2 separate regions of the Homo sapiens genome follow, and region 1 is linked to region 2. A link means that fine-mapping ties the variant in region 2 to the expression of a gene that starts in the linked region. Tissue or cell type: anterior cingulate cortex. Region 2 holds a variant in brackets; the other region holds the start of a gene. All regions are shown on one strand. Distances are from middle to middle.

What was found. PIP is the estimated chance that this variant, and not a neighbour inherited with it, causes the effect.
Region 1: POLR1B starts here. The variant in region 2 is fine-mapped to the expression of POLR1B in anterior cingulate cortex (GTEx, PIP 0.92).

The regions. Positions count from the first base shown.
Region 1 is chr2:112,538,480-112,546,662 of GRCh38, forward strand. It overlaps POLR1B (RNA polymerase I subunit B), which reads left to right and starts at 3,986. Exons shown (of 15, transcript NM_019014.6): 1 at 3,986-4,192. The coding sequence starts at 4,016. It overlaps TTL (tubulin tyrosine ligase), which reads left to right. Exons shown (of 7, transcript NM_153712.5): 7 at 1-3,260. LOC105373562 (a long non-coding RNA gene) reads right to left here and starts at 3,733. Exons shown (of 2, transcript NR_136321.1): 1 at 3,724-3,733; 2 at 3,177-3,599. RefSeq lists an enhancer at 3,869-4,018.
Region 2 is chr2:112,566,941-112,575,123 of GRCh38, forward strand. POLR1B (RNA polymerase I subunit B) reads left to right here. Exons shown (of 15, transcript NM_019014.6): 11 at 1,027-1,197; 12 at 1,806-1,962; 13 at 5,622-5,818; 14 at 6,622-6,875; 15 at 7,907-8,183. Among named protein-coding and RNA genes, the nearest start is that of CHCHD5, 14 kb to the right of the region's middle. The variant T/C (reference allele first, on the strand shown) is at 5,005.

The DNA.
Region 1 (8,183 bases), 28 kb before region 2:
TGTAAGTGGAAGCTAGGCTGAGCACGGTGGCTCACTCCTATAATCTCAGCACTTTTAGGAGGCCAAGGTGGGCAGATCAAATGAGGCCAGGAGTTTGAGTCCAGCCTGGGCAACATGATTAAATCTGGTCTCTATAAAAAATACAAGAATTAGCCAGGCATGGTGGTGCATGCCTGTAATCCCAGCTACTCTGATGGCTGAGGCACAAGAATCGCTTGAACCTGAGAAGAGGAGGTTGCAGTGAGCAGAGATCGCACAACTGCTCTCTGTCCTAGGTGACAGAGCAAGTCCTGTCTCAAAAAAATTAAAAAGTGGGAGCTAAACATTGGGTACACATGGACATAAAGTTGGGAAGAGGCCAGTCGCGGTGGCTCACGCCTGTCATCCCAGCACTTTGGGAGGCCAAGGCGGGCGGATCATGAGGTCCGGAGATCAAGACCATCCTGGCTAATATGGTGAAACCCCGTCTCCACTAAAAATACAAAAAATTAGCCGGGCGTGGTAGCAGGCGCCTGTAATCCCAGCTACTCAGGAGGCTGAAGCAGGGGAATCACTTGAACCTGGAAGGCGGAGGTTGCAGTGAGCCGAGATTGCGCCACTGCACTCCAGCCTGGGTGACAGAGACTCTGTCTAAAAAAAAAAAAAAAAAAAAAAAAGATGGGAACAGCAGACACTGGGGACTACTAGAGCCAGGAGAGAAGGAGGGGAGCAAAGATTGAAAACTACCTATTGGATACTGTGCTCGCTACCTGGGTGACAGGTTCAACCATACCCCAGACCTCAGCATCACCCAATATACCTTTGTAACAAATTCGCACATGTACCCCCCTGATTCTAAAATAAACGTTGAGAAGGGGAAAAGAAAGAATGCAAGGTTTTTTTAACATACAAAATTTACTTAATATAATATACCACTTTAATAGAAAAAAGAGGACAAAAAGCACATGATCATTTCAATATACACTGAAAAAGCATTTGGCAATACACAACACTCTTTCTTGGAAAAAACCTTTCAACAAACTAGAAATAAATTACTTCCTCAACATGATAAAGAGCATCTTTGGAAAAACCCACAGCCTACATCATATTAATGGTGATGTGAAAGCTCCAGTTGGGAGCTTTCTTCCCAATATCAGGCACAAAACAAGTATATTTATTCTTGTCACTTCAACATTGTATTAAATGTTCTAGACAGAGCAATTCGACAAAAGGAAGGAAAGAAGACTGCGCATTCAGATTGGAAAGGGAGAAGTATGATGATCTCTCTTTGCAGACGACAAGATACCATATAGAAAAAGTCCTAAGAAATCCACTTACGCTGTTAGAACTAATAAAGAGTTTAGCAAGATTGCCAGACACAAGATCAATATACAAAACTCAATGGTATTTCTACATATTACAAACAATTTGAAGTTAAGAAAACAATTCCATTTATATCAACACCAAAAAGAATGAAATACTTAGGAATAAATTTAACAAAAGTTCATTTCTACACCAAATACTACAAAACATCTCTGAAAGAAATTAAAGAACACCTAAATAAATGGAAAGACATCCCATGTTTATGGATTGGGAGATAATTATTGTTAGGATGAAAATAGGCCCCAAATTGATCTACCAATTGAACACAATCCTGATCAAGAATCTCAGCCTTCTTTGCAGAAATTGACAAGCTGGGCCGGGTGTGGTGGCTCACACCTGTAATCCCAGCACTTTGGGCGGCCAAGGCAGATGGATTACTTGAGGTCAGGAATTCAAGACCAGCTTGGCCAACATGGTAAAACCCTGTCTCTATTAAAAATACAAAATTAGCCAGGCATGGTGGTGCATGCCTGTAATCTCAGCTATTTGGGAGGCTGAGGCAGGAGGTAGAGGTTGCAGTGAGCCAAGATCATGCCACTGCACTCCATCCTCAGCAACAAGAGCAAAACTCTGTCTCAAAAAAACAAAAAACAAAAAAAAAAAAAAAAGAGAAAGAAATTGACAAGCTAAGCTGACGCTAAAATCCATATTGAAATACAAAGGATCAAATAAATCTGGAGAAAGAAGAACAAAGTTGGAGGATGTGCACTTCCTGATTTCAAAATTTATTACAAAGCTGTATTAATCAAATCTGTGTAGTTTGTAGACAGATATACAGATAAATGTAGATAGACATACAGATCAAGAGAATAGAACTGAGAGTCAAAAATAAACCCTTGCATCTATAGTGAACTGATTTTCGACAAGGAGGCCAAGACAATTTGATGAGGGAAAGAATAGTCTTTTTAACAAATGGTGTTAGGACAACTGGATATCCACATGCAAAGGAATAAAGTGATATGCCTTTCTCACACCATATACAAAAATTAGCTCAGAATGAGTCAAAGACTTAAATGTAAGAGTTGAAACTACAAAACTCTTAGTAGAAAATATAGGTGAAAATCCCCATGATTGAAAAATATCTAGTATTTGATAGCACAACAGGGTGACTGCAGTCAGCAATAATTTGTTGTACCTTCAAAAATAACTGAGGAAGTACAATTGGAATGTTCATGACAGAAATGATGAATGCTTGAGGTGATGGAAACCCCATCTACCCTCCTGTGATGATTACATCGTATGCCTATATGAAAACATCTCATATACCTCATAAATATGCTAATTATGTACCCATAAATTTTTTTTTAAATCCTCATGACCTTGGATTACACAATGATGTCTTAGATATGATATAAAAAGACAGGCAACAAAAGAAAAAAACTACACTTCAAAATTAAAACGTTTTGCTTCAAAGGACACCAGCAAGAAAGTAAAAACCCACAGAATGGGAGAAAAATATTTGCAAATCATGGATCTGACAAGGACTAGTATAGGCTATATAAAGAACTACAACTACTCAGTTGGCCGGGCGCGCGCGGTGGCTCATGCCTGTAATCCCAGCATTTAGGGAGGCAAGGCGAGAGGATCACTAGAGGCCGGAAGTTCAAGACCAGCCTGTGCAACAGACTCCCGGCTCGAATTTTTTATAAAAAGTGATATAGGAATGAAAAGTACCAGCTGAACTAGGAAAGGGGAAGTTGACAGTAAGGAGGGACTATCAGGGGCAGGAGGATACTGGGTAGTGGTGGTTTAATTCATTGTTTTAATTGTGGTGATGGCTGCATGGTTGTATACATAGGTCAAAACTTAACGCGTACACTTTAAATGTGTGGTTTATTGTATGCCAGTTATAACGCAATATAGCTGTTAAACACAAACACAATAAAGTTGAAAAACCAGCAGGCATTCCCTGATTAATCAGTATTCTGGGGAGGTAAGGGGCTCACAGGAACGCAAAAGAAATTCAGGCTGTAAATCCAGTTGGACGCCCCGCTGCCCCATCCCCTCCATCCGGGACCGCCCGACTCCTCTCCCACCTCCTTCCCCAGGCCTCCCCCAGGCCTCCAGTCCGGAAGATGCGACGAGGTTAGCGGGGCCCGACCACTCCTTGGCTTCCCAGGGGTGAGCCTCGCGAGTTAGGAGTTGGGTAGAGAGTCAGCCCGGGGCCCGGCATCCGCTTTTTCGTTGAAGCAACGACTTTGGCCGGATGACTCCCCAGGGTCGGCATCAGCGTGGGACTGGGAACAGGTGAAGGGAAACAGAAGAGAGCCTGAGAAGACCGCTCTCCTCCGATCCTAATTGACTGAGCCAATGAGAGCCAAAGAGGTCACATGCTCAACTGGGCGGGGAGCGGGTTTCCACCTGCGGCATCTTTCGCGAGCGGGGAGATGAGTGGGGCGGAATATGGGAGAAAGGGAGGGCCCGCCACGCTCTGGCTGGACACGGCCTTAATCGGCCCGTTCACTCGACGTTTTTGGTTCTACGTTGACCCCGAGAAACCGAAACCGCAGGGCCTAGGGCGGGTGGAACGAGAGGGAACTACATTTCCCAGCAGGCTGCGGAAACGGGACTGCGGCCACTACTTCCGGCGTGTACCGAGAGACTGGCGTCCGGCGTGTACCGAGAGACTGGCGTCCGGTGTGCAGGTGGCCACATGGATCCTGGCAGCCGGTGGCGGAACCTGCCCAGCGGGCCTAGCCTAAAGCACTTGACTGACCCCTCTTATGGAATCCCGCGGGAACAGCAAAAGGCAGCGTTGCAGGAGCTGACGCGGGCGCACGTGGAGTCCTTCAACTACGCTGTGCACGAGGGTCTCGGCCTCGCGGTGCAGGTGAGCGCGGCGTCCGCCGGCGCCCTTGCCGCGGCGAGGCCAATCCCAGGGAGGTGGCTGGGAGGTCACAGTATGACCCCAGATGCATGTGCTCCTTGATCCTGACAGGCTTGGTGGGTAAGCGGGAGAGCACAACATGTTAAACAGGACGCGGTACTGGCCTTCGTGAGACTTGGAGTCGAGGCGTCTTAAGAGATGTATTCGTGATTCTGGAGTGAAAAGTGATTGTGAACCGTAGTTTGGACAGTTTCGGGGTGCTGTGAGAGTGAGGAAGTGGCTTATCTGGGGATGTGCTTCACAATGCACACGGCTTTATATCACTTGAAGACTTACCTCTCCAAAACGTACCTCGAAAGATCCCGAACGTATTTGTAGGTACAGTGTAATGTTCAAGGTTATCCTTCAGTTTCCTTCTCTTAGAGCTTTAAAGAGAGAAACTACTCGTCATTTGTTATGAATTAAGCAGGTGCCGAGGAAGGTATAAATGAGTCATGAAAGCAAGATTGAATCGAAAAGTGTAATTGCATTATTAGCGTAGAGTAATGGTAGCAGAATTCAAGTGAGTATGGTGGGGGAAAGCTTCGTTTAGTAAGCATCCCCAGTGTCTCCAGGCACTAGGCTCAGAGGATGTGGAGGAGGCAGTCCCGTGTACGAGACAGTTCATGCATTTAAGTGCTCCCTGTCGTGTTTGGGGGTTGAAGGGGTGAAGATAATGAAAGCAGTGCATGCCAATGTTCTTGAGAACTGCTCTGCCAAGGGATTGTGTGGGCTACTGCGGGAGCCTATGGGCGGCGCAACTAATCCAGGAGTTTGAGAAAGGGCAGGATTAGATGAGTTCAAGAAGTGAGAAACGTGCATTTCGTCCAGGGGAAGAGTAGAGCAGAGTCACATGCTTCGGGGACCCTACCTGTGGTTTTGTTGGGTAAGATTTGTGTTGTGGGAGATAGGGATACAGATAATGTGGAGAGCTTTGATTGCCAGTCTGATTCTTGAACTCTATTCGGCAAATAATATGGGAGCCATTAAGATTTATTGTTTAGAAAGACTAGAGGGGTGGGGGTTATTTGTATTGTGCCTGGATTGTTACAGTATCATGTCTGTGAGAAAAAATTCCTAATTAAAAGTTAATCGGGCTGGGTGCAGTGGCTCACACCTGTAATCCAGGACTTTGGGAGGCCAAGGCAGAAGGATGACTTGAGCCCAGGATTTCAAGACCAGCTTGGATAACATAGTGAAACCCCATCTCCACAAAAATTTAAAAATTAGTGGGGCATGGTGGTGCGCACCCAAGTAGCTGGTCCCAGCTACTCGGGAGGCTGAGGTGGGAGGATAAGTTGAACCCAGGAATTTGAGGCTGCAATGAGCTATGATTGTGCCGCTGCACTCCATCCTCGGTAACAGAGTGAGACCTGTCTTTAAAAAAAAAAAATCCAATTGAGAAATTTTAGAAAAGCACTAATTTAAAAATAAGCCAGTCGGCTGGGTGTGGTGGCTCTTGACTGTAATCCCTGCACTTTGGGAGGTCAAGGCGGGTGGATCACTTGAGGTCAGGAGTTCCAGACCAGCCTGGCCAACCTGGTGAAACCCCATCTCTACTAAAAAATACAAAAATTAGCCGGGCATGGTGGCACATGTCTGTAATCCCAGCTACTCAGGAGGCTGAGGCACGAGAATCGCTTGAACCTGGGAGGCGGAGGTTGCAGTGAGCCAAGATTGCACCACTGCATTCCAGCCTGGGTGACAGAGTGAGACTCTCCCAAAAAAATAAATACATAAATAAATAAACCAATTATATGTTAACATTTTTAAGAAAAATATTTTCCAAAGCAAAAAAGAAGTTAGATGAATTGCATTATTAAAAATCTTTTTAATGTCTGGCTTAATGAAAAGACAGCTGGATTCTCATGTCTGCTTGTGCATTCAGTCCCTTGTGATAATTGTTTTGGTTGAAGTAGATGAAGAAAATTTGGCCCTGCATAGAAAATGATGCCACAACTTAGCTAGGACTATAATAATATAGTATTTGAAAAAGTTCTGTAAAACACAGTAACATAAATAACTAATACTTATAAAGCCAAGGGAAAAAATAGTTATCATATTTTTTACTTACAAAACATAATTTTGCCAAGTTTCTTTGGAGTGAATTCCTCCTTTCTGTGAGTCAGAATTTATGTGTCTGTCTTTTCAAAATACAATTGATTTTTATTACTTGGGGATTCCATATTTGCAAATTCACCTACTCACTAAAATTTACTTCTACTCCAAAAGCACCATGCCCAGAAGCAGCAAAAAAGTTGAGTTGCTCAGTGTCCATTTTCCCAGCTGAGATCTAACAAGGTGATGCTCGGCCTTCTTGTTTTAAGTTCTTAAACTATAAACAGAGGTTGTCTTCACTATCTATTTAGTGCCGTGTTTTGTGCTTTTTGTTGGTGATTTTGCTGTTTAAAATGTCCCCCAAGCAAAGTATTAAAGTATTAAAGTTCTGTATAAAGTTCCTAAGCACAAGAAGGCTGTGCTGTGCCTTTAGGGGAAAATATTAATACATGCATTTAACATAGGCTTTGTTCAGGCATGCGTTAGGGACTCAATAATATATATTAGATAAGCTGTCCTTAAACAGAAACCCACATAATGCAAGGTTGTGTATTGATCAGTGGATGAAATCATAGGCTTTGTTCAGGCATGAGTTACGGACTCAATAATATGTATTAAATAAGCTGTCCTTAAACAGAAACACACATAATACAAGATTGTGTGTTGATCAGTTGATGAAATGTGACCAGAGGCTCGCAGGAAGCTAACCATGTATTTACCCTAGGAGCAGTGGTTCAGTATTGGCTAATTCAGTGTTTATGGCAACTGTATAGAACATAACTATTATGAATAATGACAGTTCACTGTATTTCCTTCTAAATAGTGCAGCTGCGTCTTGAGAAAGCAAATTGTCTAATCTCTCTTTTTTTAACTTCATTCTGTTTTTTTTTTTGAGACAGGATCTCACTTTGTCACCTAGGCTGGAATGCAGTGGCATGGTTATAGCTCACTGCAGCCTCGACCTTCCAGGATCAAGTGATCCTCCCACGTCAACCTCTTGAGTAGCTGGGACCACAGGCGTGCACCACTATGCCCGGCTAATTTTTTTATTTTTATTTTTTGTAGAGACGGGGTCTCCCTATGTGGCCCAGCCTGGTCTCAAACTCCTGAGCTCAAGTAGTCCTCCTCTCTCGGTCTCCCAAATATTGGGATTACAGGTATAAGCCACTGCATCTGGCTTTTATTTTTAAATAAAATATGAATTTCTAAAATAATACCAGCTTTAGATAACATTTTAAAATTTAGAAAAGGTAAGTTAACTCACGTGAAGGTGGAGAACCTCCTTGGTATTCTTTCTTGGTTCCATTTTTTCATTTTCATTATTCTAAGACTAAGTCTAGGAGGTTGCTTGTAATTAATATATAGGAGAGCTTGGTGATGCCCCTTCCTCAGAACAGCAAAGCTTCCCCTACAGAATGGTACAAAGAAGTAACTTCTGTGGAAGGGGAAACCCAGCCTGGCCACCATCTTTTCCTTTGCATGGCTCTGGCTTCAGTTTGACGTTGCCATTGTACATTAAGCATCTAGTCTTAAATCCTAAAGGATGTTTCCGTATCCTTGCTCTATTAGCAGTAGTCCCATTTGTCTTGCTATGCACATAGACAAGTTAAGAATACACAAGGCTCTTGGTTCAGAGAACAGGAATTTTGTTCTGTTCACAGCTGTATCCCTAGAGCCTACTACAGTCTCTGACACATGTGGTCACTCAAAACAATCTTGTACTAATAATGCTTTGTGGTTTTAAGTATTTAGTGAAGTTATGAGTAGACTGGAGGTAGCTTTTTTTTTTTTTTTTTTTTTTTTTTTTTTTTTTTGAGACGGAGTCTCGCTCTGTCGCCCAGGCTGGAGTGCAGTGGCGTGATCTCTGCTCACTGCAGGCTCTGCCTCCCGGGTTCAC
Region 2 (8,183 bases):
CCGGCTGGTCTCGAACTCCTGACCTCAAATGAGCTACCTGCCTCATTAGTCTCAGATTTTATCTTTTTTATAGAGAATTTATTTTCATTCTCTTTTTTTTGGTTAGCATTGTGGAGCATCGGAGGATGAGGACACTTAAGATCTGCTCTCTTAGTAAATTTCAAGCATGCAATATAGTATTCTTAACTATAGTCACATGCTGTACATGAGATCTCCAGAAACTTAATTTTGTTGCATAACTGAAGCTTTATACTCTTTGACCAACATCTCCCCGTGTCCCCCTCCACCAAACATTCTCTCATTTTTAATGATAATGCATCTAGCTGTGAATCCCCATGAGTTCTGACACATGGGTTTGTTGTTGTTGTTGTTGTTGTTGTTGTTTTCAGGTTTCTGTAATTTAGGTTTTTATTTCTCCTTTCACCCAGGAGTTTGTTGGAGTTTTTTTGTTTTGTTTTTGAGACAGGGTCACTCTGTCACCCAGGCTGGAGTGCAGTGGCATGATCATGGCTCACTGCAGCCTCAACCTCCTGGGCTCAAGTGATCCTCCCACCTCAGCCTCCCGATTAGCTGGGACTACAGGCACGTACCACCACACTCAGGTAATTTTTTAATTTTTGTAGAGACGGGGTTTCATCATGTTGCCCAGGCTGGTCTTGAACCTCTGGGCTCAAGTGATCCACCCACTTTGGCCTCCTAAAGTGCTGGGATTACAGGTATAAGCCACCCCCGGCCCACCCATGAGTTTTTGGTTTATTAAATTTACAAATAAAACCAGTAATCTACTGTATTTTAGATCACAGAGGACAGAATTTCCTTTAGTGTATCGACACGTGCATTCATGGTGTGCTTTATCCTTAGCCTCAGTAGTTAGTGATTTGCCTACTAGCTGGGGTGAGCACCCAAGGAAGTAGGGCTTTTACCATGGCTGAGTGTGGATGAGTGGTATTCCATGGGGCATAAGACTGGCAGCGACAGCCATGGCCTTGGGACAGGTTTGTTAAACTCTGTTTTTGTTAAAAACAGGTGTTGAGAGAGAAAAGAATTCCTCCCTGGATGGAAGTGGTCCTTATACCCATGACAGGAAAACCAAGTCTGTACCCAGGATTGTTCCTTTTTACCACTCCTTGTAGACTGGTACGGCCTGTGCAGAACTTAGCATTGGGCAAAGAAGAGCTAATTGGAACTATGGAACAGGTAAATACATATGTGTGATGGATGAGTGTATGTGCTTGTTTGTATAGTATACAACTTTCAGAGACTTAACTCTTCCTTTTTTAAAAGGGTTGTTAATGTTACAACAACAGTTGGACATTTGAAAGAAAGTCAGACTTTCCACCTCCTCTATGATCAGCACAGAGCAATTTCCATGTCTGATCTCACTCCACAGAACCTGAGAGAGGGCTGGTGGTCACATTACCTGCCTCCCATCTTATCTAGCTCCCAGAACTCCTTTGTACCTGGCTCTGCCTCAGCCGTGAAGTGAAAACATTCCATTAGATTCACACTCAGTCTTTGCCTACATATTTACAGTTGCAAAATTATAGGCTTTGTGCTACTTAAAAATTTTTCTTCCTATTCCCCTTCACAATTGGTCTGGGGTAGTTTTAGAGTGAGATACGTAAAGCAAGTGGTATTTCTAACTGGTCGCTTCCCTGTGCTTCCCAGTTGATCCCTTCAGCACTCATGATGCTGGGTGGGGATGGTTTTCTCTTGAGTCTTTGAGTACTGAACTCTGAGAAATGGTAAGAGTAAATGTGTAACCAGTTGCAGTTATTTTGTGCCTTGGACATCTGCTCTTCCAGATCTTCATGAATGTCGCTATCTTTGAGGATGAAGTTTTTGCTGGAGTTACCACACACCAGGAACTCTTTCCACACAGCCTGCTGAGTGTGATTGCCAACTTCATCCCTTTCTCTGATCACAACCAGAGTCCACGGAACATGTACCAATGCCAGATGGGTAAGGAAGAGGGATGATGTTACAGTCACAATCAGGAAAGTAAACTTGATACTAGCACACTCTTTTATTGTCCTTATTTACATATGCTGACCATTTGTTCCAAAAATACAGTTTATGGCAAGTTTTTCTTTTTTCTGTGCCACAAGCAACCAGCCCAGGATCACTCATTGTATTTAGTTGGCATGTCTATTTAGTTTCCTGTAATTTATGACAGATCTTTAAACATTCTTTGTCTTTGACATTGACATTTTTGAAGAAAAAGGTATAGAATGTCCATAGATTTGGGTGTGCCTGAGGTCTTATTATTTGATTTTTTGAAGAATACAAGCAATTATAGTCACCCGCATATTTATCACTTCCAGTCCTCTTCATTCCTGCTGCAAGATTCAAGTTTTCATTGTATACAATTTTCCTTCAGCCTGATAATCTTCCTTTAGCATTTTTTTATAGTGCAGGTTGCTGGCCACAAATTCTCTTTGTTTTCATTTATCTGAAAATGTCTTTATTTTGCTTCACTTGAAGGAATCTTTCACTGGATATACAATTCTGAGTTGACAGTTATTTTTCTTCCAACACTTAAAAGTTGTTGTTACACTGTCTCTTCTTAGTCTCTGTCATTTCTAGTTAGAAGGCAGCAGTCTTCTGAATATAGTGTGTTTCTTTTTTTTTTTTTTTGAGACAGAGTCTCGCTCTGTCGCCTAGGCTGGAGTGCAGTGGTGTGATCTCGGCTTACTGCAACCTCTGTCTCCTGGGTTCAAGTGATTCTCCTGCTTCAGCCTTCCAAGTAGCTGGGTCTACAGGGACTCACCACCACACCCAGCTAATTTTTGTATTTTTAGTAGAGACGGGGTTTCACCATGTTGGCAAGGCTGGTCTCGAACTCCTGACCTCAGGTGACCTGCCCACTTTGGCCTCCCAAAGTGCTGTATTACAGGCGTGAGCCACTGCGCCCGGCCTCAAATTTTGTTTTTTTTCAGTTTAATTAAATTGCTAAACTCTTCTGTCATTATTTTTAAAAACATTGCTCCTATCCTTTTCTCTCTTTCCTCCTCTTCTATCAGTTATTCATATATTTAAACCTTTTGATATTGTTCCATAAGACATTGAGTTTCTGTTCTCTTTTTTCTTTATTTTCTTCAGATTGGATCTTTTTTTTTTTTTCCCGAGATGGAGTCTCACTTTGTTGCCCAGACTGGAGTGCAGTGGTACAATCTCGGCTCACTGCAACCTCTGCCTCCCATGTTCAATAAATTCTCCTGCCTCAGCCTCCTGAGGAGCTGGGATTACAGGCACACACCACCATGCCCAGCTAATTTTTGTGTTTTAGTAGAGATACGGTTTCACCATGTTGGCCTGGCTGGTCTCAAACTCCTGACCTGAAGTGATCTGCCTGCCTCAGCCTCCCAAAATGCTGGGGTTACAGGTGTGAGCCACTGCACCTGGCCCAGATTGGATTATTTTTATTGACCTATTATCACAGTCACTTTTTATTCTGTCTTCTACTGAATTTTTGCTTACAGTCATGTGCCCTTAACGACAGGGATACCTTCGAAGAAGTGAGTCATATGTGATTTTGTCGTAGTGTGAACATCATAGAGTGAACTTACACAAACCTAGATGGCAGAGACTACTACACACCTAGTATATGGTATAGCCTGTTGCTCCTAGGCTACAAACCTGGGTGGCATGTAACTGTACTGTGTACTGTCTACAGTTGTAAGACAATGGCAAGGATTTGTGTAGCTAAACATAGAAAAGGTACAGTAAAAATATGGGATCACCATAGTATATATGCCATCCTGCATTGACTAAAACATTGTTATGCAGTGCATGCCTGTATTTTTCAAGTCCAGCACTTCTACTTGTTTCTTTTTTTTTTCTTTTTTTTTTTTTTGAGACAGGGTATCGCTCTGTCACCCAGGCTGGAGTGCAGTGGCACGATCTTGGCTCACTGCAACCTCTGCCTCCCCAGTTCAAGCAATTTTCCTGCCTCTACCTCCTGAGTAGCTGAGATTACAGGCATGTGCCACCATGCCCAGCTAATTTTTTGTATTTTTAGTAGAGGCAGGGTTTTATCATGTTGGCCAGGCTGGTCTCAAACTCCTGACCTCAAATGATCTGCCTGCCTCAGCCTCCCAAAGTGCTGGGATTACAGGCATGAGCCATTGCGCCTGGCCTGACTTGTTTCTTTTTTTATAGTTTCTTTCTTCTCTAAGATTTCTTATCTTCATTCATTGTGGGCATGTTTTCCTTTATATTTTGAACATAGTTTTATATGATGGGTGTTGTAAAATCATTATCTGCAGATTCCAATGTCTGGGTCATCTTAGTATCAGTCTCTTTGAGTATAAGTCAAGTTTCACCATTTCTTTGTATGCCCAGTAATATCGGATTGTATTATGAACATTGCGAGGAGTATGTTTTAAACCCTGGATCCTGTTAGGGTCCTCTGAAGAGGATTGGTTTTGTTTGTTTTTAGTGTGGTGTTTGGCCTTCAATTACATTTTAATTTTTTTCATTTTATGTCTTTCCTTCTTAATACACAGTCCATCACCTGGTTCAGTGCATGTCACCAAAAATTCTCCAGGGGAAGAGGATTGGTTTTTAGTTTTCACTGGTACTTAACTTGGTGAACGTGGCAGTTGAAGTACATTCTTCAGCCTTAGGTGGGCTGCTGTGATCTGTCCCATGCATGCATAGTTCAGGAGTCCACCAAAGATTCGGACCCAATTTATATGCTGAATTTAAGGGTCTCCCTTTGTGGTTCTCTCATTTCTGAAATGTTCCCCCTTCCCAATTGTTGTCATGCTCAGAACTCTATTTCTTGGTTCTTCAAGCCAGTAAGATTGTGGGTTTCTATCTAAGTTGTAGCTGCCACACTGGGCCATAAGGCAAAAATAAATACATAAATACTTAAAAACCTGGAAATTCACCCAGTGTGTTCCTTTTGTCCAAGTAAAAATTCTTCTCAGCTTCTGACAGCTTTTGGTTACTCTCCAGTGCTGTATGTGTAGTTGGGGGTCTGCGTCTCATACTTATGTG[T/C]TGAGGGTGGTCTAGTAAGAGTAGCCCTTTATTACTGGAAGCTCTAAGTCTATAATTTTTTTAAAAATTTCACTTGTATGTATTTATATTTTAAAATCATTTTGTCGTGAAATGATTCTCTGTACTGTGAGGTAGTACACAGAGGAATCTCACCCCATGCTCCACTACTTAGAATTAAATACATATTCCGCTGTAAGAAAGTAATCTAATTACGTAATAATTCCTATCCCCTTTTCTTCCCCGAGTAGTGATAGCCTGTAATTTGCGTACTTCCTTTCTGTCCCCTTCTAAAGCTTTTATTACATCATACATGTATCCATAAACTAAGTATAGAATTGTTTGGGGTGTGTTGCAAATACACATAAATCGTATCATATTAAATGTCAGTCTGCACTTTCTCCCACTCAGCATGGTTTTCCTGGTCTGGTCACGTTGATACATTTAGGTTTACTTCATTTTCACAGCTTATGTATTAGTCTAAAGTAAGCATAACTACCATGACTATTTATTTGTTCATTTTCCTCTGATGGATATTTAGTTGTTTCCAGTGTTGCGTATCACACCTATAATCAAGATGAAAGCAGCAGAAAATGCTAAGATGTTTTTTCTCCATGTAGGTAAGCAAACTATGGGCTTTCCACTTCTCACTTATCAAGACCGATCGGATAACAAACTGTATCGTCTTCAGACTCCTCAGAGTCCCTTGGTGAGACCCTCCATGTATGATTATTATGACATGGATAACTATCCAATTGGGACCAATGCCATCGTTGCTGTGATTTCTTACACTGGCTATGATATGGAAGATGCCATGGTAAGTTTTACCAGGAAATGTTGTTCCAATCTTTTTATTTTTTAACTTGTTTGTTTACTGTGAAATCACTGAAGGAATATTTTTGTGTACCCAAGTACCTAGTATTTGGCACGTGATGTTCTATTAAATGATTAGTTCTTAGTCTAAGTTGAAAGTGGGCAAGCCTTGAGGAATATCCACTAAATATTCAGATACACGTATGTCTTGCATATTTGAGTGCATATTATGAGTAAATTTTGAAGTTTGGTTTTGGATCTATCTACCTTTTATATTTAAGTATGATTAGATTTTAAGCTATTTCTGTGTGCCTGGGTTTTTGTTTTTCTTGTTTTTTGTTTGTTTGTTTTTTGTTTTTTATTTTTGAGACGGAGTCTCGCTCTGTTGCCCAGGCTGGAGTGCAGTGGCACGATCTTGGCTCACTGCAACCTCCACCTTCTGGGTTCAAGCAGTTCTCCTGCCTCAGCCTCTCGAATAGCTGGGACTACAGGCACCCATCACCATGCCTGGCTAATTTTCGTGTTTTTAGTAGAGATGGGGTTTCACCATGTTGGCCAGGCTGGTCTCGAACTCCTGACCTCAAGTGATCCACCTGCCTTGGCCTCCCAAAGTGCTGGAATTACAGGCGTGAGCCACCGTGCCCAGCCATGTCTGGGTTTTTGTAGTTAGTATCAGTGATTTGGAAAATGTGAGGAAAGTTAAAATGTGATGCCAGTTATCCTAAACCAAGTATGATAGTCCCACCTAGTTTTATTTTGAAAATCCTCAATTGGCCTCAGTCTTTTAACGATTCTTTTACTTCACAGATTGTGAATAAGGCCTCTTGGGAACGAGGCTTTGCCCATGGAAGTGTCTACAAGTCTGAGTTCATAGACCTCTCTGAAAAAATTAAACAAGGAGATAGTAGCCTGGTGTTTGGCATCAAACCTGGTGACCCACGCGTTCTGCAGAAGTTAGATGACGATGGATTGCCGTTTATAGGAGCAAAACTGCAGTACGGAGATCCGTATTACAGCTACCTCAACCTCAACACCGGGGAAAGTTTTGTGATGTACTATAAGTAAGTTTGGGTATCCAAGCTGTTTTGTTTTTGTTTTTGTTTTTGTTTTGAGACAGGGTCTCAGTGTGTCAGCCGGGCTGGAGTGCAGTGGAGTGATCTCAGCTCACTACAACCACCACCTCCCGGGCTCAAGCAATCCTCTCGCCTCAGCCTTTGAGTAGCTGGGACTCCAGGCATGGACCACCATGCCCAGCTAATTTTTTGTATTTTTAGTATAGACGGTTTCACCATGTTGCCCAGGTAGGTCTCGAACTCCTGGGCTCAAGTGATCCACCTGCTTCAGCCTCCCAAAGTGCTAGGATTACAGGCCTGAGCCACCATCCCTGGCCTATTTGTGCTTTTTTTAAAAACTGTATTATCCAAACTTTGTCATCTTTCTCACATACAATGTTAGCAATGTTTCCTAGCCAAAATGTTGAGCTCATACCTCTTATTAGAAATGTCTTATTTTAGCTTATTTTACAATATAATTTATTTCAATAGGCTTTCATAATAATTTTTCAGTTGCTTTTGTTGCTAGTTTTCTTTCAGATGAACATAATTCTGTAGTGAATATCACCAATAGCTCTATTCATACCATCTCTGTTTGTATTGGAGAATAAAGGTAAGAATGAGTTTTGCAGGCCAGGCACAGTAGTTCACACCTGCAATCCCAACACTTTGGGAGACCAAAACAGGAGGATTCCTTAAGCACAGGAGTTCATGATCAGTCTGGGCAATGTAGTGGGGCCCTATCTCTACAAAAAAAATTTAAAGACTAGCCAGGCCTAGTGGCATATACCTGTAGTCCCAGCTACTCAGGAGGCTGAGGTGGGAGGATTGCTTGAACCCGGAAAGTCAAGGCTGCAGTGAGCTGTAATTGCACCACCGCACTCCAGCCTGGGCAACAGAGTGAGACCCTGTATCATAAAAAAAAAAAAAAAAAAAAAAGTTTTACAAATATCCTTTATGAAGCACTAATTATATCAATGAAACTTATCTCCATAAGTTAAAACAAATAGGTTGACCTTATATGGTTTACTTTTTCCTAGGAGTAAAGAAAATTGTGTTGTGGATAACATCAAAGTGTGCAGTAATGACACTGGGAGTGGAAAATTCAAGTGTGTTTGCATCACTATGAGAGTGCCTCGGAACCCAACTATCGGAGATAAATTTGCCAGTCGCCATGGGCAGAAGGGCATTTTAAGCAGATTGTGGCCGGCTGAGGACATGCCTTTTACTGAGAGTGGGATGGTCCCAGACATTCTGTTCAATCCCCATGGTTTTCCATCCCGCATGACCATTGGGATGTTAATTGAGAGTATGGCC